Regions from separate parts of the Homo sapiens genome. Here regions 1 and 2 are each linked to region 3. Evidence: fine-mapped expression QTL. A gene starts in region 3. Each other region holds a variant in brackets. All regions are shown on one strand. Distances are from middle to middle.

What was found. PIP is the estimated chance that this variant, and not a neighbour inherited with it, causes the effect.
Region 1: its variant is the best candidate, but not a certain one, in a credible set for the expression of BASP1 in whole blood (INTERVAL, PIP 0.72).
Region 2: its variant is the best candidate, but not a certain one, in a credible set for the expression of BASP1 in monocytes (TOPMed, PIP 0.57).

What each region holds. Positions count from the first base shown.
Region 1 is chr5:17,440,535-17,447,227 of GRCh38, forward strand. LINC02217 (long intergenic non-protein coding RNA 2217) reads left to right here. Exons shown (of 2, transcript NR_134275.1): 2 at 935-1,160. LINC02218 (long intergenic non-protein coding RNA 2218) reads left to right here and starts at 3,476. Exons shown (of 3, transcript NR_134270.1): 1 at 3,476-3,700. The variant C/T (reference allele first, on the strand shown) is at 3,338.
Region 2 is chr5:17,236,779-17,243,471 of GRCh38, forward strand. All of the region lies in intron 1 of BASP1 (brain abundant membrane attached signal protein 1), which reads left to right. It also overlaps the pseudogene RNU6-1003P. Among named protein-coding and RNA genes, the nearest start is that of BASP1, 22 kb to the left of the region's middle. The variant T/G (reference allele first, on the strand shown) is at 3,517.
Region 3 is chr5:17,213,623-17,220,049 of GRCh38, forward strand. It overlaps BASP1 (brain abundant membrane attached signal protein 1), which reads left to right and starts at 4,009. Exons shown (of 2, transcript NM_006317.5): 1 at 4,009-4,188. BASP1-AS1 (BASP1 antisense RNA 1) reads right to left here and starts at 3,800. Exons shown (of 3, transcript NR_027253.1): 1 at 2,455-3,800. RefSeq lists silencers at 3,805-4,284, 4,775-5,094 and an enhancer at 5,129-5,909.

The DNA.
Region 1 (6,693 bases), 230 kb after region 3:
TTCTCTGTGGGGCAGATAAGGTGAGGAGGTGATCACCCCAATCCAAGAGGCTGAACTAGGTCAAGACTGGGTTGACATTTTAGTAAAATCCTCTCCACTTCTAGCTATGTTTTTATTCCTCAGGCCTGTCTCTTCCACACTGTTGATTGACAGCTCTGAAAGAAAGTGGAAGTTTCGGGCTGTGTAGTATCCTGCCGTATGCTCCATCCAAATTTGATGAGAATCTTGGGGAGACCAGCCACCTTCTGAGCAGACTCCTTTCCTCCAGTGGAACTTTTCCTCCCAATTATTATGGGACTTCTGAAGATTTTAACTTACTTTGCAGAAACTCCTAACCTTTTACTCAGCCTCAATTTAGCAAGGGTACTATGAGGAAAATTGGCAAGGCATTTGGGGATACTTTTGTTTCCAAATTGTTGTGGTTGCTTCTATGAATGCCACAAGCTTTGCTGGCTTCTCTTTCCTTCCTACAGTGCTTCTGCATGAACCAGATCTGATCTGTGTTTCAAATCAGCAAACATCCCAAGAAAGAAAATAGCCTGTGAAAGGTAGCTAATCTTGGCAAAACACTCTGCTCTCTGGAATTTTTGTTCTTTTAATTCTTTTTGTTTCCATAATTCACTGATCTCTTTATATGGATTTTTTTTGCAATTAATTTGTCGTTTTTAGTTAGTCTAACAGGATTGTATTCTCCTGCAACTAACGGCATTCTATTTATAACCACAAGTCCCCTTAGGGTCAACTTTTAAGAAGCCTTGGGCAGCTATGTTCTTCCAACCTAACAGTCCATAAGATCTTCCCCTATTTTTCCAGAAGCTTCAGATGAGACTATCACAAAGAAAAGTATGGACATATGTGACAAATAGAGATTACAAATTAAATTCTTACTGTCCAACATGAAAAACTTGACTGTCCTTTTTTTCTGTGTGTCCAGATATACAGGGAGTCCACGGAGCCTCCCCTGCAAGCATCAGTACAGAAGTCGATGATAATCTGGATGCAAGCCCAGGAGTGTGGAGTCCACTGACTCAGAAGACCTGCATCTAAGGAATTGGCTGTTCTTATCCTTAAGAATGATGACTGTGTTTCCAATTCCAGTAGACCCTTTGATGCGTTCTGAATAAATATTCCTTTTGGAATTGAACTTCTAGAGCCCTTAACTTTGGCCCACTCTAGTTTTCTGTCTGTTTTTTTTTTTTTTAATATTTTTTTTTTGTAAAGATAAGGTCTTGCTTTGTTGCCCAGGCTGGTCTTGAATTCCTGGACTCAAGCAATCCACCTGCCTTGGCCTCCCAAAGTGCTGGGATTATAGGTGTGAACCATTGTGTCCGATCGCTCTCTGGTTTTTCTAATATCATGATCCCAACTCTGTTCTTTATGTAAATTTCCCTGATCACATGGTTGTATCTTGGCATTTCAAAATCCTTGACAGACTTTGTTTTGTTTGAATTTTACAATGAACTTACATGACTAGGCACGGTCCCCAGTTCAGTTTTATAGACAAGGATTCTGTAGGTCAAGAAGTGAAACACAACCAATAACAGCAGGTGACAGGATTTAAACCTGGGTCACTTTACTTATTTTTTTCTACTCTATCATTATGTGAATCTATCCTACCTCTGCAATGACAGATGGCCCTAGAGCAAGAACACTTCCTTACATCTGGTATACAGTCAAAAAGTAAAAATTCCACACAAATAAATATGGAAAGAATTTTTACCTGCTCCTATAGCTTCCTTTCAGGGACCTGGCACCCACAAATGTTGGGTAACAGAAAGAGGACTTATGTAACTTAACTCAAAGCAGAAAAGTTACAGAGACTGTCTTAGCATAATAGAGCATGGAGTGGTCATGCTTGGATGTGCAAACTGTCTGATAGTCTTGCACATGGCTTGACCCCGAATTACACTAGTGGGGCAAGTTGCCTGGGGCAAAGCAAACTTATTGGACCCAAAGCTCTCATTTGAGAATTTTGTTGACTAAAAGTTATAAAATATCAGCAATTTCATATGGTTCAGCCTAATATTTTATCACTCTTCCTTTTTCTATTCTAAAACAATAATTTTTAATAACGTAAGCTATACACATACATGCTTTAAACATACAACACCCTGACTATCATATAGTGGATATTTCAAGAAGTAAATGTTCAGCATGTCTTCACCCCCACTTGAAGACATAATGTATGTATTAGGCTGTTCTGGCATTGCTATAAAGAAATACCTGAGACTGTGTAATTTATAAGAAAGGAGCTTTAATTGGCTCACGGTTCTGCAGGCTGTACAGGAAACATATTGGGTCTACTTCTGTGGAGGCTTCAGGGAACTTTGACTCATGGTGGAAGGTGAAATGAGAGCAGGCACCTCATGTGACTGAAGCAGGAGCAAGAAAGAGAGAGCGAGCAAGGTGCCACACACTCTTAAACAACCAGAACTCTCTCTTGAGAATTCACTCACTGTCTTGCCGTCAGCACCAAAGGGATGGTCCTAAACCATTCATGAGAAATCCTCCTCCATGATCCAATCACCTCTCACCAGGCCCTACCCCCAACACTGGGATTACAATTCAACGTGAGATTTGGGCCTGGACACAGATCCAAACCCTATCAATATATTAGCCAGATACTTGCAGCTGTATGAAGAATACCCTGGTTACCCAGCTACAAATGCAGATGTTATTGATAAGGGAGGGGGGCAGGGAAGTGCTGGGAGGAGAAAGCAGGTCTCTGGCGAGGGCTTCACCCCGGTGCCTGTGCCCACAGACCTAGGTAAGGGCAGGCACTCCTGCCTTTGCGCCCAAATGTTGCATTTCCCAAGACCACCCTGGCCCACCACGCCCCCATCCTGTGCCTATAAAAACCCCGAAACACTAGTGGGCACTCACACAAGCGGCTGGACGTCCAGAGGACGTCAACAAGAGCACGCCGACAGGCAGACCCTGGCAGGCCATCGACTGGCGGAAGGACATGGAGTTTGGCTGCGTGGTTGGAGGAGAGCCAGGCCGCTAGGTGGCCTGACTCCAGGAAACTACACCTTCCCACTCCATCTCCCTTCTGTCTCCCCTGTCTGCTCACAGCTACTTCCTCTCAATAAAACCTTGAACTCATTCTCCAAGCCCACGTGTGATCTGATTCTTCCGGTACACCAAGGCAAGGACCCTGGGATACAGAAAGTCCTCTGTCCTTGAGATAAGCCAGGGGGTCTAATTGAGCTGACTAACACAAGTCGCCTACAGATGGCAAAACTAAAAGAGCACCCTGTAACACACGTGTGCCCACTGGGGCTTCAGCTGTAAACATTCACCCCTAGACACTGCTCTTGGGTTGGAGCCCCACAAC[C/T]CAGCCGTCCGCATGCTCCCCTAGAGGTTTGAGCAGTGGGGCACGGAAGAAGCGAGCCACTCCTCCTGTTGCACACCCTGCGGGTGGCGCAAGGGAACGTTTCCTGTTTCATCATCAGGGATATTGTATCGGTGTCTTAAATAACACTAGCATTTTGACATATTTGGAGCTGCTACTGGGCCAGCTCTGTTTCCAGGCCTGCCTTTCAATCTTTTCCTTGCTTCTGGCATGAGTTACCATCTCTTTTAAGAAATTGGTTATGCATTTGAAAATACACGTAGCTATACATACTTTAAACATATCATTTAGCAAGGATGCTCCTTATCGGACCGTTGCTGGGAACAGAGAACACGACAGTTCCAGGTGAGCGAAATAGTGTGATCTCATACATGATGAAAGCTAAGCAGGCAACAGCTTTTCCGTAAGCAAGCATTTCAAAATGTATTTGTAGAAAGGCAGTAAAAGAATAAGATGCAAATCAAGCTATTTTTAAACCATCGTTTTCAGGGCCAAGGAAGAAATTATGAGAATGAATTTTTTAAAAAAAGATTATAAGGTCTTTAGTGGTGTTTTTAGTTGAAGTAATTTAGAGATGATTAGGTATTGCTATTTTTTATTCAATTCTTTACAACAAAAGCTTACAGAAATAGAAAGCTTTGCCATTTCTTTTCCCCACAACTTTAAAAAGTAAAGAGTGAGTGTTGGGTCACAATAATCTTTCTTTTTTAGTCTCCTTTTTGTGCAAATTCATCCACCATCAAATTACATTGTACTCCTTCCTCCTCTGTGACTACCTGTGGAAGAATGTTTATATAAATAAACCCAAAGGCCTGTCTTTTTGTCTGTTGCTCTGAGTAAGTGGTGCAAAATAGATGCCTTAGTCTGGTGATTTGATTTAATACAAATGGACCTTGTTAGAACACTTCTTTACACCTGAGATATTGGGAGATTTACTTGTAACCTTCCTTGCTACGTGAACAGCAGTAGTATTTGCTGTTTCTAAGATGTGTTGTAGTTTGAAAGATTTTGTTTGTATCATGCCAAAGTGACTGCATTAAGAAGTTCCTAGTTGACTGATTAAAACAAAACAAAACAAAACTCCTTTAATCATTCAGCTGTTTGACCTATGCTAGTGTATAGGTGCTATACACAATTATATATTTTGATGCTTTCTGTTTTATTATGTGGCAGTGTGTAGTCCCAGTATTTATGCTAATTATATCGTTCTTTGGAATCCAGTTTTTCTTTTTGTAAATTTGGATTAAAGTCTATCATGGCTCCTTTCAAAGAGAGCACTAAATGTAAATGGAGGGTTCTTTGATACCATTAGAGAGATGGGACTGAGATCTCAAAGAAATAGGCTGCACTGGCTCTGGGGTGAATGGGTCCTATGACTTGTAGGGCTTCAGAGTAGGACACACAACTCTGGGGCTAAAGCTCAGGACATTGGCCATGCAGTTGAACATTTCTGCCCGTTCTTTCCTGGTCCTGCCCTGTGCAATTTCCAGCTTCTGTAAATACATATTGAAGGTATGTATACATAGCAAAGGTGTGCCAAAGTGTACAGTTGCTCAGATTATTTGCACACCTTGGTTTGGCCCTGGCCAGTTGAAGGAGTCATGAGGAAATACCTTGCTGCGATGACTTCTGTCATTCATTTCTCTGTGTATATTGGTACTAATTGATTTTTTTTGGCAGAGTTTAAAGTACTTTTGAACTTTTCCCCTTTCTTCTCTCCTCTGCTTCTTTTTCCAGACTGTTTCCAAGATTGGATGAAGAGATTCAATTGACAATGCTGTGAAGAGAGGGATTTGGAGCTTGTTGGGGGAGGTAGTGTTGACTTCCTTGTGCAATCTAGGATTGAGTGGGGGATGCAGTTGGAAGGCAAGAGAAGTAAGACTCCTCCATCTTCCTGGTCCAGAGAAATTATGCTGGATCCCCCTACCCTTAATGAGAAAGGAGGTGTTTGTGTTTCCAGCATCTATGAGATCTGATTGCTAATGTAGCTACCTTTAAAGAATTCTGCTATTTACAATAAAAGTGAGATCTCCCTCCTCCATCCTGTGTTACACAGCCTGGGATTGCACCGTTGTTCCTGGCACCTTTGCATTGCAGGAGCCTGCCTTTGACTTTCTTTCCTCTCCACACATCTTCTATTCCTGCTGCTTCTCTTTTCAGAAAGTGCTGAGCTTCTAGGCTAGTGTCCCTCTCAACGGATGAATATTCAGCAGAGAATGGAGAGCTTTCAACCGTAAGAATCAGGATGTGGCTGTTTATAAAGTTATTGCATTTTTTTGAAGAGTGGCTGCAATTAGTTTTGGTGTTAGGCAGCAAAAACCCCAAAATGTTCTTTCTGATTTCATGTTGCTTGCATAATACAGATACCCATTTACTGGAAGAAATCTTCATGGGTAAGTGTATGAGTGTGTATGCATAAGTATGTGTATGTGTGTGTGTGACTCCACATATATTCCTAGAGTGCCTTCTATGTGCCAGGCATGGTGTTAGTTGACATATGTAATTGAGAGTAAAACAGTCATGATCTCTGCTCTTAACCAATTTACAATCTAGGATAAAATAGACCTTCCATGTTCAAATCCACAATGACATTAATTGCAATATGATCATTGTTGTGCTTGAATAATAGCTAAGAAAAGCACAAAGAACTTACAAGGTGGCTTAACAGAAGAACATCATCTAGCTTAGAAGTCTGGATAGCCCCTTTCTAAGAAAGCGGTACGAGTAAGGATGAATAGGAATAGGCCAGATAAAATACGAAGCCAGGAGTTGGAGGTGGACACGGGGGAGGGAGGTGACATTGTACTGATGGAGAGATGTGGAGAGCTGAGGAGGCTGATGAATGTAGAGAAAGTTGAAGTGTCACTGGATTGCAGTTCTTGATAGGTAGAAGTGTTGTATGAGGGGACGAAAACAAGGCCATTGGAAAGGGAAGTTGAAGATGGTGGTGGTGGTGTTTGTGAAGGTATTTATATTATTGCAGAATTATCTGAAGTGCAGTTTCCAATGTTAACCAAATTCATGGTGTGACTGTGGAAGTTGGTGCTTGAGGTGAATGATGACAACTATCAGTGGGTATCAGGGTAAGGAACTGCTGGGCAAGGTGTTGATGGTGCATCCAAGTGATGTTAAATCTGCTTAGCATGATGGTAGGGTTGGGTGAAAAGGAGACTATGAGTTGAGTGCTAAATTCTTTAAGGAGTGACCAAATGATTAAGTGAGGACTAGAGGGAGAAGAAGCTCTTATTGTCAACTACTCAAAGGAGCAACTTACAAAAGAGAGTGCAGTCATTCGTCTGCAAGTGGCATTGGGTAGTCAGGAGGACGTTGCCTTGGTT
Region 2 (6,693 bases), 23 kb after region 3:
AATGCACTCTTAACTAGACCCATATCTTAAGGGAAAAAAATGTTTTTAGTACTTTTCTTGGTATCTTCTAATCTTCAGAAAAAAATTCTTAATAGGCAGTCGATGTAAATAAAACAAAATTCTGTATATTTAAAAAGCTGCTTGCGCTACTGTGTCATTCCTCTGGAATTTTCAAAAGCTGAGATTTTTCTGTATACTTTGAAAGCTAATGAAATCTACCAGCCCACCGGGTAGTAAACAACCAAGAATTCTTGATGGAGGTATTGTAAAGAAAGGTGATAAGGTGGCTGGGCATGGTGGCTCACGCCTGTAATTGCAGCACTTTGGGAGGTCGAGGTGGGCGGATCACGAGGTTAGGAGATCCAGACCATCCTGGCTAACACGTGAAAACCTGTCTCTACTAAAAATACAAAAAATTAGCTGGGCGTGGTGGTGGGCGCCTGTAGTCCCAGCTACTTGGGAGGCTGAGGCAGGAGAATGGCGTGAACCCGGGAGGCGGAGCTTGCAGTGAGCCGAGATCGCACCACTGCACTCCAGCCTGGGCGACACAGCGAGACTCCGTCTCAAAACAAAACAAAACAAAAAAAAGAAAGAAAGGTGATAAGGCTATCTAATGAAGGACCCAAAGAACTCTCACTGAGCTCACCCAGAATGCTTTTCTGGATTAAAGCACAGACTGAGAACCTGTTCTTAACATTAGTGACTTCGGTATGGCTCATTTTGAAGAAAGAAAATTGCCTAAATCTATAGTTGAGCTTGCACACATTACAGGTCTCTGGAAATAAGATGCTTAAACAGGTTCTATAATCTGGTTCTTGCTAGGTGAGTGTCCCCTGACATTGCTTTTTTTTTTTTTTTTCCGTGATGGAGTCTCGCTCTGCCACTCAGGCTGTAGTGCAGTGGCTCACTGTAACCTCCACCTCTTGGGTTCAAGTGAATCTCCTGCCTCCACCTCCCGAGTAGCTGGGACTACAGGCATGCACCACCATGCCTGGCTAATTTTTGAATTTTTAGTAGAGACAGTGTTTCACCATGTTGGCCAGGCTTGTCTTGAATTCCTCACCTCAAGTGATCCACCCACGTCGGCCTCCCAAAGTGCTGGGATTACAGGCATGAGCCACTGTGTCCGGCCCCCTGACATTGCTTTCTAAAGTAAGATTACCTGTAGTTCTCAGTGTTCGCCAAGCATGTATGAAACACAACGTATGTTAAGAGGCTGTTTAATTACATAAATGCTTATTTGGGGGATTCTTGTTCTCAGTGGCCTTCTCTCTTTTGGATGGATATACACAGTTTGATTGGCACTCCTATTGACACTTTATTTGGTTTGTGACTTGTTTGTCTCGGTGCCTTTCTATTAATATATTTTTTCTATTTAAACTACCCTCTTTTTTTCAGTACAGCACTGGACATTTTCTTTGAAATCTTCCAGATTCATTTGGTTGTCTTCCTCATCTCAGCTGTCTTATGCAGGAAAAGTGGTCACTGTTCAGTCAATTCATTCTACGTAGCTGGCTATCTGAGTTTTTTTTTTATCGAAACCAAAATAAAACTTAAAAGAAACAGAAGAAGCTGAGTCTCCCTCCCCTCCCTTTCAACTAACACCTACTGATGTTTATCTTGGAAATAATTTGACGTCTATTTGATGAAACCTGTAGTTAAGTGTTAATGGAGACTAACGTCAAGCTTCAGAACAGTGAGGAGAAACCTTTAGTATTGTGTGTCTAGCATTTGATGCAAGTGCTCTGTGGAAACCATGGAAGCTGGGATAAAAATGCTCGCCTGATCCCCAGATAGTCTCATCTGAATGTACTGAGGCATCACCGCATTCATTCCAAATCTGAACCTGACCTACTTTTCCCCTTCATCTCCTGCCATCTCTTCCCTAGTTTGTCATCTTCTTTTCCAGCACCACGAATGGTTCATGCTTTCTGATAAATATCTGATGTATGGCATCAATTATATGACTATTTAAACATGACTCATAGTGAACTGTATTTAAATATTGATATGACTCCATGCGTTTTCAAAGAATGTGTGGAATGTTCTTTTTGAGTGTCAGTTATTAATCATCTGTTTTCCGTTCAACTTTGGTTATCTTCAGTAAATTTTAATATCTTTCCCTTCAAGAGGACTTCCCAGCTGTCTGATCAACGGGTAGGAAAGGACAGTTGGTTCAGTGCTTGCTCATGTTAGCCCTGTAAGAAGTCAGCTCAGTTTAGTTCATCCAATAGCTGGGGAATAAAACCACACAATTCCCTTCCTTACTTGATATCAATCAACACTTGACTAAATCTTACATCCTGTCTTCAGCTGTTTTTTTTTTCTTTTTTGAGATGGAGTCTCGCTCTGTCACCCAGGCTGGAGTGCAGTGGCATGATCTCAGCTCACTGCAACCTCTGCCTCCCGGGTTCAAGTGATTCTCCTGCCTCAGCCTCCTGAGTAGCTGGGACTACAGGTGCCCGCCACCATATCTGGCTAATTTTTTGTATTTTCAGTAGAGACGGGGTTTCACCATGTTAGCCAGGATGGTCTCGATCTCCTGACCTTGTGATCCGCCCGCCTCAGCCTCCCAAAGTGCGGGGATTACAGGTGTGAGCCACTGCACCCGGCCCAGCTCTTTCGTAAAGAAAGCCTTGGCAAATGTGGAAATTCTCCCTATTCACTACGGTAAATAATTCTTGAGGTTACTAAACTCAGTATCTAAATAAAACAGATCAGTGTGTTAGTACATGGAACAGAAGGCCATATTTTTGGTTATAACCGTTGACCCCACACTCACCCTGGGGTCTTGGTGTCAATGTCAGGATGTGTTTAAATACCCTAGGCTGTCAATCTTGTAATACAACTTTGGTTATCTTTGTTCTAGAGCCTTGCAAAGTAAAGCTGATCCTAGTTAGGACCCAGTTAGGAATTTGGATATATGTGTTGTATTTGCATGTGATACTGCCCTTCATTTGAAAACACAGGCTTAAATTAGTGAAGTAGAACTCTTTTAGTCCAGATTACCCCCAAAATCTGTGAATTTGTACTAATTCAAAATCCTCTTTGCTGGTAACCGTTGTAATGAGGTCTTTGGAAATTTTATCCTGGTAGCATGGAGGTGTTGCTTCTTTTCATTTGTCTAGTTTTGTAGTCAGAACTGTTTATAGAGATGTAATTTTAAAGTGACCCTATGCTATGGTTTGAATATATGTGTTCCACCAAAATTCCTACGTTGGAACCTAATGCCCAGTGTGATGGTATTAAGTAAGAGCTGGGGCCTTTTGGGAAATGTCGAGGTCATGATTATTCCACCTTCACTAATGGGATTAGTGCTCTTATAGAACATGTTGGGAAAAAAATAAAAATAAAGATAAATAAATAAATAAATAAATAAATAAATAAATAACAGGTTGGAGCCCAGGAGTTTGAAGCTGGGGTGAGCCGTGATCATGCCACTGCACTCCATCCTGGGCAACAGAGTGAGGCTCTGGCCGGGCATGGTGGCTCACGCCTGTAATCCCAGCACTTTGG[T/G]AGGCCGATGTAGGCAGATCACCTGAGGTCAGAAGTTTGAAACCAGCCTGGCCAACATGGTGAAATCCTGTCTCTACTGAAAAATACAAAAATTAGCTGGGCGTGGTGGCGGGCACCTGTGATTGCAGCTCCTCAGGAGGCTGAGGCAGGAGAATCACTTGAATCTGGGAGGCAGAGGTTGAAGTGAGCTGAGATTGCGCCATTGCACTTCAGCCTGGGTGACAGAGTGAGACTCCTCTCAATAAAATAAAGTAAAATAAAATAATAAAATAAAAAACAGAGTGAGGTTCTGACTCTTTAAAAAAAGAGAAATAATGTGCCCACTTCATCAGCACATATACTAAAATTGGAACCATATAGAGATGAACATGGCTGCTATGCAAGAATGACAGTGCAAATTTGTGAAGCATTCCATATATTTTGGAAAATAAAAAAGTTGAAGGGAGTGCCCTAGTCCCCTTTTGTCTTTGATCTTGGACTTCCCAACCTACAGAACTGTGAGAAGTAAGTATTGATTCTTTATAAATTACCCAATCTAAGGTATTTTGTTAGGGTACCTACTAAACAAAAAGATAAAACTCTTGTGATTTTGATCTTAAGTTGGAAACATAAAACCATCGTTACAGAGAAGGCAAAACTAGGCAAAGATTTATTTTTGCAATGGCATTTAAAAATATTTAATAGTTTCTTTTAATTATAACATTACAAAATAACACCTTGTAGTCTGGTGAGCACAGGCTTGCCTAGTGCTTAGCATGTGCCAGGCAGGCCACATTCTAAGCTTTACACAGATTGACATTTTCCTTTTTTTTTTTTTTTTCTTGAGGCCGAGTTTTGCTCTGTTGCCCAGGCTGGAGTGCAGTGATGTGATCTCGCCTCACTGCAACTCCCACCTCTCAGATTCAAGCGATTCTTGTGCCTCAGCCTCCTGAGTAGCTGGGATTATAGACATGTACCACCAGTCCCGGCTAATTTTTGTGTTTTTAGTAGAGATGGGGTTTCGCCATGTTGGCCAGGATGGTCTTGAACTCCAGGCCTCAAGTGATCTGCCTGCCTCAGCTTCCCAAAGTGTTGTGATTACAGGAGTGAACCACTGCGCCTGGCCCAAAGATTGACATTTTAAAATACAGCAGCTAGGTGGGGTGGATTCTATTATTATCCCATTGTACAAATGAAGAAACTGTGGCACAGAGAAATTAATAATAGGTTACGTAGCCAGTGTAACCCAGAACATCTTAGTTCATGTTGCATGTCTCTCATTTGCTGGAAGCATATCAGTCAACAAGAAAATTATTGTTTTGCTTCCAGTTTGAGTAATGTTCCTGTGACTTCTTTAAGTGCTGTATATTTGCTGCATTTGCTGGGAGTGAACGAGGCCCTGAAGCTTTCGTAGATCTGTGCAGGAACTGGAGTGAGCCAGTGTGTGCCACCATGGGTGTCCCTCGATGTTCTCTCCTGTCCCTTCAACTGTGCTCTGCAGGAGTCAGACCTGTGGGGACAGTTCACAGGAACAAAACAGAAGCTCCAACCAAGAGCTGCAGGATTTAAGGACAAGGCTGCAAAACAAGTACGTGGAGCTGGCACGCAAACTCAGGGCTTTCTGAAACACAAACTTCAGCATTTAATTAAATGGGGGAAGGAAGGAACTCTCAACCGAGATACTGAACTGCACTGTGTCTCTACAAAATGCGAGTGTCCCACATTTTAAGGGTGAATGGATATCTCTAAAAGAAAACACCTCTCTCATTCACGTCTATTCTGTATGCTTTCTTGATTGGCTGAGGAAGGGGTGAAATCATGCTCTCCTTTCATTCCCCTCCTTCGACTAGGAAGGCGTTCTTTGATGCACCATTAATAGTTTTAGCAATTACTCTCAACCATAGTGAATGTGTAACTCCTGTTTTCATTTAAATTTGATCAATGACTCAGTTGTTATTAAAATGCAAGAAATAGTAGAAGTTTTTGTATATATATACCTGTGATGAGTGCGGGTGAGAATGGTCCTGTGGTTTTATTTCTCTTTTTTGTTCGACTTTATTTGTTAGATCAGTTTCATGTTCACACGAAATTGAGTGGAAGGTACGGAGGTTTCCCATATAAGTCTTGCGCCGCCCCCCACCCCATGCATAGTTTCCCTCATTATCAACATCCCCCAGCAGAATACGTCTGTCACAATTGATAAACTTGCATTGACACATCATTGTCACCCAAAGTCCTTTGTTTACATTAGGGTTCCCTCTTGGTGTTGTACCTTCTGTGAGTTTGGACAAATTTATAATGACACGTATCTCCAATTAGAGTAGCATAATTTTATCTCTTTATAAATGCTCAAGTCAGGGCTTCTTATTTTAATTTAAGGGGGATTAAATGATCGTAAGTGCATTTGTTACATCATTGTGCTTATTAATAATCTGTTTAAAGTATCTGTAATGCTTTGTGTTATAACTTTAAACAACAGAAAATGATGTTATTTGTAACGGTACATCCTTGCTCTGCGTGCTAATGTCCTTGAGGAGTCGAAGTAAGTCTAGGAAAAAAAAAGTCAACTCAGTTTAAAAAAAAAAAAAGGTAATCGTAAGCATTTTTTTTTCCTTCTAAAAGGATTTCTTTGTGTTTGGGGGCAGGGAGGACATGTCTTGAAATAAGTGAACATGTGCTTGTAAAATGTTTTTTAAGTGTTGTCGTCCCTGTAAGTCTGTGCCTTTCTGAAAATCTGGGTATGAAACCAGATCATGTGTGTAAAGGGAAATGGAACATTCTGGAACACCTGTAGTCTGTTGCCCCCAGCAAGTTGACATGCTAACATGCTAGGTGACAAAAGGGCATCATGATAAAGCCACTGAGACTTAAATTCTTGCTTTTTTTTTTTTTTAAGAGGGAGTCTCATTCTGTCGCCCAGGCTGGAGTGCAGGGCCGCGATCTTGACTCACTGCAACCTCCACTTTCTGGGTTCAAGCAATTCTTGTGCCTTAACCCCCCGAGTAGCTGGGACTATGGGCGTGGTGCGTACCACCACGTCCAGCTGATTTTTGTATTTTTAGTAGAGACAGGGTTTCGCCACGTTGGCCAGGCTAGTCTCGAAGTCCTGACCTCAGATGATTTGCCTGCCTTGGCCTCCCAAAGTGCTGGGGTTACAGGCATGAGCCACCACGCCCGGCTCCCTCCAACCTTCTTAAC
Region 3 (6,427 bases):
GATGCTCATTTAAACCTGGGTTTCTCAACCTTGCCATTATTGACATTTTGGCCCAGAATGACTCTCGTGGGGTTGGGTAGGGTTGGGGTAGGAAGGAAGACAGACGAATATATAGATTTCAATATTTTCCTTTGGTTAAAAAATTATAAATATATTTAAGAGAAAAAAAGCCGTACACTTTCATCTGTAATACTGTCTGGCCTTTTGCTTGCAATTTGCAGATAAGATTTTGTAAACAAATTGCAGCAAGTTGGTCCTCCACGGAAAACTTACCAGTAGAGCTGAATTTACTTTCAAATTCTCTAAATGGGTTTCTGAGGGTTTGGGTTAATGCAGTGGCCTTGAACAGGAACTATCCAGAAAGATGTCAAGCAAAGGTGGCTAGAGTCACACTCGGGTGACACTACTGTCACCATGCTTCTGCTTCATTCTTGTTCTACATCTTTTATTTGAGATTTTAATCCTCTTTTTACTATTTAAGAGGAAAGGATGGGGAACTGAGAAAGACGCTAGGCCTTGGTGGGTGATGTGGGAGGTGGGGAGAGGGAAGATAAGAGTGAGGTTTTGAGGCTTGATGAGGTCTGTATAATTATCTATTGTAGGTGTCTTAGTTGACACAATAGATATGATTTGAAAAGCTGAAGGCACATGGAAATTTTTGTAAACTGACTAGTAATTTAAATGACAATGAGACCATTATATTGCAAGCAAAGACAAATCTTTTAGAAAAAAATTAGTAATCACGAATAATTTATCTTTTGGATAATGATTTTCATAATGCAGGTTATGCTTCCCTGGAGCAAGTTATGCAGGCAATTAAAAATGACAATGGAATTCAGTTTATAACCGATGAAATCCAGCTTTGTTTGTCAAAAACAAATGCATTCATTCCATTTGGAGAGTAAAACAGTCTTTTTTTCATGAGCATAATGGTGAAAGCTAATTAAATTTATCATAAATTACACCCTTAATATTTGTTCTCAAGATCATTAGTCTATAATGTAAACAGACACATTCACAATAGTTAATGTTAACAGTTTTCTAAAATTCAGAACTTTAAAGGTTTATTCATTTATTCCCTAAGCATCAGTTTAAAAAAATGTTTTAAAGAGCATACACATTAAAAAGTATGATATTAGATGAACAACTAAAAATTAGACTAAAAACATCGCCAAATTGGATTTTATATAGTAATATTGTTACATTGAGAGGTAACATTTTGGCAACCATTTGCTGCAAACCTACAAATTCTGTAAAAGCTTCTAAAGATTAATAGCACTATCAGTCAGTTGCATCATTATCTCATTGAAAATGAATTCTCACCCTCCTTTAAAAAAATTTAAAAAAATGTTTTAAGAGAACAACTAAATCTGATGGAAGACAAAATTAAGGAGACCTGCAGTTCTCCTTGTTGGTGTAAGCTTTTGCCTCCGGTTTCTATGGTAACCCGTGATCTGTATTCCAATCACACCTTTGAAAGGTTTGTTTTCTCCATCATGAAAATTTAGCTGGAAGCACTGAAGGTACTGAACATTAATTTTTATGTTGTCTTTTTTTTTTGGAAAAATTGGAAAAAGAGAATAGAGAAGGAAGATAACACCCACAGGCTTAGACTGCAAATACAATGAGGAAATGTATTTGCTAATTTTTAGATGATTTACATGCCTGGAAGATCACAAGGATAAAAACCCTGAATGCTAAATGAACAAGTAGGCAGCTCCTCTAACAAACTCAGGAAATGTCTTGAGCAGAACATTGCAAATATTCATCTAATTCGATAGGGTAAAAACCTAGAGACTTGCTCATAGAGGTTGAAAGAAAATGTAGCTCAGTGGTTTTCAGCCTGGAGTGATTTTGCCTCCCAGGAGACATTTGGCGATATCTGGGGACATTTTTGGTTGTCACAACTGGTGCTGGTGCTGGTGGTGTGTGTGGAGGGTGGTACTGGCTGCTAGTAGAGGCCAGCAATGAATGCCAGACATCCTACAGTGCATAGGACAGCCTTCCACAACAAAGAAATATCTGGCCCCAAAAGGAGGTGGGAAAACCTGCATCCTCCATTTAGCTTTATAGATGGTGTACTGGTGTGAGGGAAATAAATATTCAAAAGAATAAAATGCTTTAGAAGCAACCTCATTTGTAATTTGCTTCCCTGGTATTTTACTACACTAACTTTTTATTTCACTTTAAATGGCAGAAAGAGAAACAGGAAAAAACAAACAGTTCCCGCTTTTTTCTTACCTTTGGTTTAAATTTGAACATTTCCAGCTGGCATGCATTAATCTAATTTGGTGCTGCCTCCTATGACCTGTAAATGTGTACAGTAGGGTCGTCAAGTGTTTCCACTGCAAAATCGCTAGTGCAGTTGAGTAAATATTGCCACTTTGCTTAATTCAAATATGTACGTTAAAGTTACGATAAGTTAATTTTCCTGTTAAGTGAAAATGCACTTACCTTTACCCAGTTGAATACAGATGTACTTGCCTTTGACGTCTGCCTCCCTAAGTATGGTTACAGTTTGTCACTCCGGTTCTGGAGGGCCACCCTGTCCCTGAATTCACGCCCAGGTCCTGAGGGCAGAACCATCCTGAGGACAACCTGCAGCTCCATCGATTTTTTCTTGGCTGGGACGCAGGCGAGCATGAAAGCGATCCAAACACAGCCAGAGGGCGCCAAAATGCCGCAAATAAAAGTTCCAAAGGCGTCAACTGGCTTTTGCGGGAAGGTAAAATTGGCTTTTGTGTAATCAAAGAGCTACCGTTGTCAACGATGTCACGTTACGTTATTTTTGTATGTCCCTCTTGCCAACAGGTAAGCAAAGTGAACGCATCTTCCTACCCCGGTGGCTATTCTGTGTCCCGGTGCTAAACCAAGTGTCCGCCCCCTTAGGGCACCCGGACAAGCCGCGGTTGGCCCTAGCTTTGACTCGAGCGCTCGCAAGCAGCAGCGTGCGGGCTGCCTCGGCCAACCCCGTCTTCTCAATATTGGTGGCCTCCATTAAAGCACAGACATCAAAAACATCGACGGCCCCTTTCCCCTCTTCTCTTCCCTCCTTCCTCTCCCAAGTTCCGAGAGCATCCTCCGAGGGGCGACGTCTCTCGCCCCACCAGCTGGACCTCGGCGACCGCGCCTCCCCCGAAGCTGCAGCCTTCGGGGCTGAGCCCCGCGGGTGCGGGTGCAGGTGCGGAGCCGCCCAAGGTGCGCAACTCGTTTGCAGCGGCGCAGCCCAGACGCGCCTGCAGCTGGGGCTCACCCCAACCTCGCTGCCAGCCGAGGTAGCGGAATCGTAGTCGACGTCGGGAGCGGGCTGGACTGGGGTCTGAGAAGGGTAGCTGGTGCCAGGGGGTGTCATTCATCACCTCGAGGCAGCTCCCTAAGTCTGAGCGAGAGCCCGAGCACTTCTTATCCAACGGTTCCAAATAAATGAGGGGGAGAGAGAGAGAGAGAGTGAGAGAGAGAGAGAGAGAGAGAGAGTGAGTGAGAGAGTGAGAGAGTGGGAGAAGTCCACGGACAGCCCAGGCGGCGCGGCGGGGGAAGGGGGACGCAGGAATGGAGGAGAGGAGAGGGGAGGCGGAGGGGGGATCTGAATAGAGGGCATTTAGGAAACGTTGGCGGGGCACAGAGTTGGGAGGTGGGGGGAAGGGAGGAACCAGGATGGCGGATAGGAGAGAAATGGGGGTGACTGTGCTGGAGGGGAGGGGAGGTGGGGGCCCAGAGCTGGGGGGAGTCAAGGGGAGGCGGGCGTGTCCAGGCTGGAGGGGAGAGGGGAGGGTCTGCGCCGGAGGAGGGGAGGGGAGCAGAGGGAGTGCAGGGGGTGGGGAGATGGAGCTGGAGGGGGTGGAGGGGAGACGGGCGGGGCGCCGGGCTGGAGGGAGGGGAGAGAGGCGGGCGGGGAGCGCGGGAGGAGGGAGGCTGGGCGGGCGGACGCGCGGGGGGAGGGCACTGGGCAGGAAGGGGAGGGGGAGCGAGCGCGAGAAATGCAGAGGCTGCAGCGGCGGCGGCGGCGGCAGTAGCGGCAGCGGCGACGACGGCGGCGGCAGCGCTCCAACTGGCTCCTCGCTCCGGGCTCCGCCGTCGAGCCGGGAGAGAGCCTCCGCCAGCGGCCAGGCACCAGCCAGACGACGCCAGCGACCCCGGCCTCTCGGCGGCACCGCGCTAACTCAGGGGCTGCATAGGCACCCAGAGCCGGTAAGGAGGCGCGCCCGGTGGCCCCGCGCCGCCGCGGACCCGGGGGCCTCCGTCCCCCACCGCGCCGCGCCCCGCCCCGCAGCCCCCGGGCTCTCCCTTCATGCAGCGGGCAGCAGGGATGTGGGCCCGGATTGGACGGCAAGGGCCTGGGGTCCCTCTGTGAGGGCTCCGTCGCACTTCGGGGATCCCGGGTGATGGGGGGCCCAGAAGTGGGAGGCTTCAGCCGCTCGCATGGTGGAGGGGTGAGGGGGGCGGCGAGGTTGGTAAACGGAGCTGGGGGGAGGGGGCTGTCGGGGAGAGGAGCTGCGGGTGACGGGAGGAATTGCCGAATGCGAAACCCCCTCAGTGCGTTGAGTCCCGGGGAGACGGTTCTGTGGGCTGAAGGGAGCGCTTCCGTCATCGGAGCCCTTACCAGCCTGGGAGAAAGCGCTCGGGGCGAGGGGCGCAGCAGCCAAAGATGGAGGGTGGGGGTGGGGTGGGGCGGGAGTCCGGGGAGAAAGAAGATGGGGAATCTGGCCCGATCAGAAGGAAGTGGGTGGCTTTTTGCTTTGGCAAACGGGTTTTCTCGACCCATGGGACTCCTGGATCTTGGTTCTGGGGCCAAGGAATACGAGGTTCACACGGCGACGTGCACTCAGAAGCACCTCCCGAGCAGATCGGAGCCCCAGCCTCGTCAGTGGCGGAATTGCCTTCCTACGAACCCGTGGGCTGCCTCGGAGCAGTTTGTTTTTTCGAGCCTTTGGTTCCAAGAATGCGCCAGGCGCCTCCGCCCTGGGTCCCGGCCCCGGCCCGGGCCCGGGGGGTGTGGGCTTGAACCTGACAGCGCGCGGCCCTAACTGGGCTCAGCCCCGCTGGGAGCGTAGGGTTGGGGTTGAGCAGCTTTTGCCCAAAGCGCTAAAGCTGAAACCCGGCGCCCGGTTCCTGCTCCCCCCGCCCCCGTCCCCCCTCCATTTCCAGAAAAATAAAAATTGCGGAATCCTGGATCCGATCGCACGCACAATGCGCGGCTGCAAACCGCATTCTTTTCATGAATATTCATCGAACGCTTGGCCAGGCTCCTTATCTGCGTCCCCAGAGACATTTCCGCCTTGAAACGAACTCGGTGGACAGCCCTTGCCCATGTAATTCTCACTCTGCTGAAATTAGCACAGCACACATGGGTGCATTTTTTAGGACCTTGTACAGGTTGACAACACCTCTGTCTCCCCCGCGGCCACTCGCACTGTGGGGCGGGCTAAAACCCAACACTAGCGTCGAAATGGCCTTCTGCTATAGGGTTGTGGACCGACCCCCCACCCCCACCTCCCGGGATTACAGCCCGGGCCAACAGACCCCCAGTATACTGCAGGCAAAATGAATGAATCGGGACTGTAATTACCTATTCCTTTGTCTTGGCCTCGCGCATGCGCCGGAGAGCAGGGTGTGGAGGGCCCGGCAGCCCCATCCCATCTCCATCATCCAGCCACCCACTCCCCTCCCGAGCCGAGGAACAAAGGCGTTTGCCCTAAATGTTGCGGGAAACCCTTGGACACCAATGACAGTTTTTCCCGCCTGTGTGTGTGTTTCTTCTTTTCCAGGCTGTCTCTCATCTTTTGCTTTCTTGCTGATTTCAATTGACCAAAATTAAGATTTGCCTTGATGAGGATGAAGGCAAATTGTGGATTAAATATTTTGTACCCGCACACTGTTATTTTCCTTTCTAGTACTGTTCATTGTTCTTTTTCCTGTAACATATCTTACTGCAGTGAGGGTGGCTTTCTTAATTTGCATCAATTAACCGTTTGACAGATCTTTTTTGGTCATTTGATTAAGGGAAGGTGGCCTCAAAACTGTCAGTGGGCGTTGCCTCCAGTGACACCACCTGGGGAAAATTAAGACATCTTGGCGTTTATTCGAACAAGATGGCCTACAAAAACCGGAGAGAAGAAAACGATTACCTTGTCGGGATCCTAACCCTTTCTGTTTTCTCTGGACTCCGAACTCATTGTTTCATTAAGGATTCCAAAAGGCGAATGGCGTCCAGATGGAAATCTGATGGGGGCAGAAAGAAGGCAGTCGTTGGGGTGAAGCTGGTTGATTAGGTTCGCAATGATTCCTTTTTCCCCATTACCTAACAGAAGCCATGATATACCTTTGATGGCTGATTTTCTTTCAGATGATCTATTTTCCAGGTTATGGCCATTTAGATTTATTTTCAGGTAGTTTGTTTTTACCACACAAAAAGGGACTTATTGTGTAT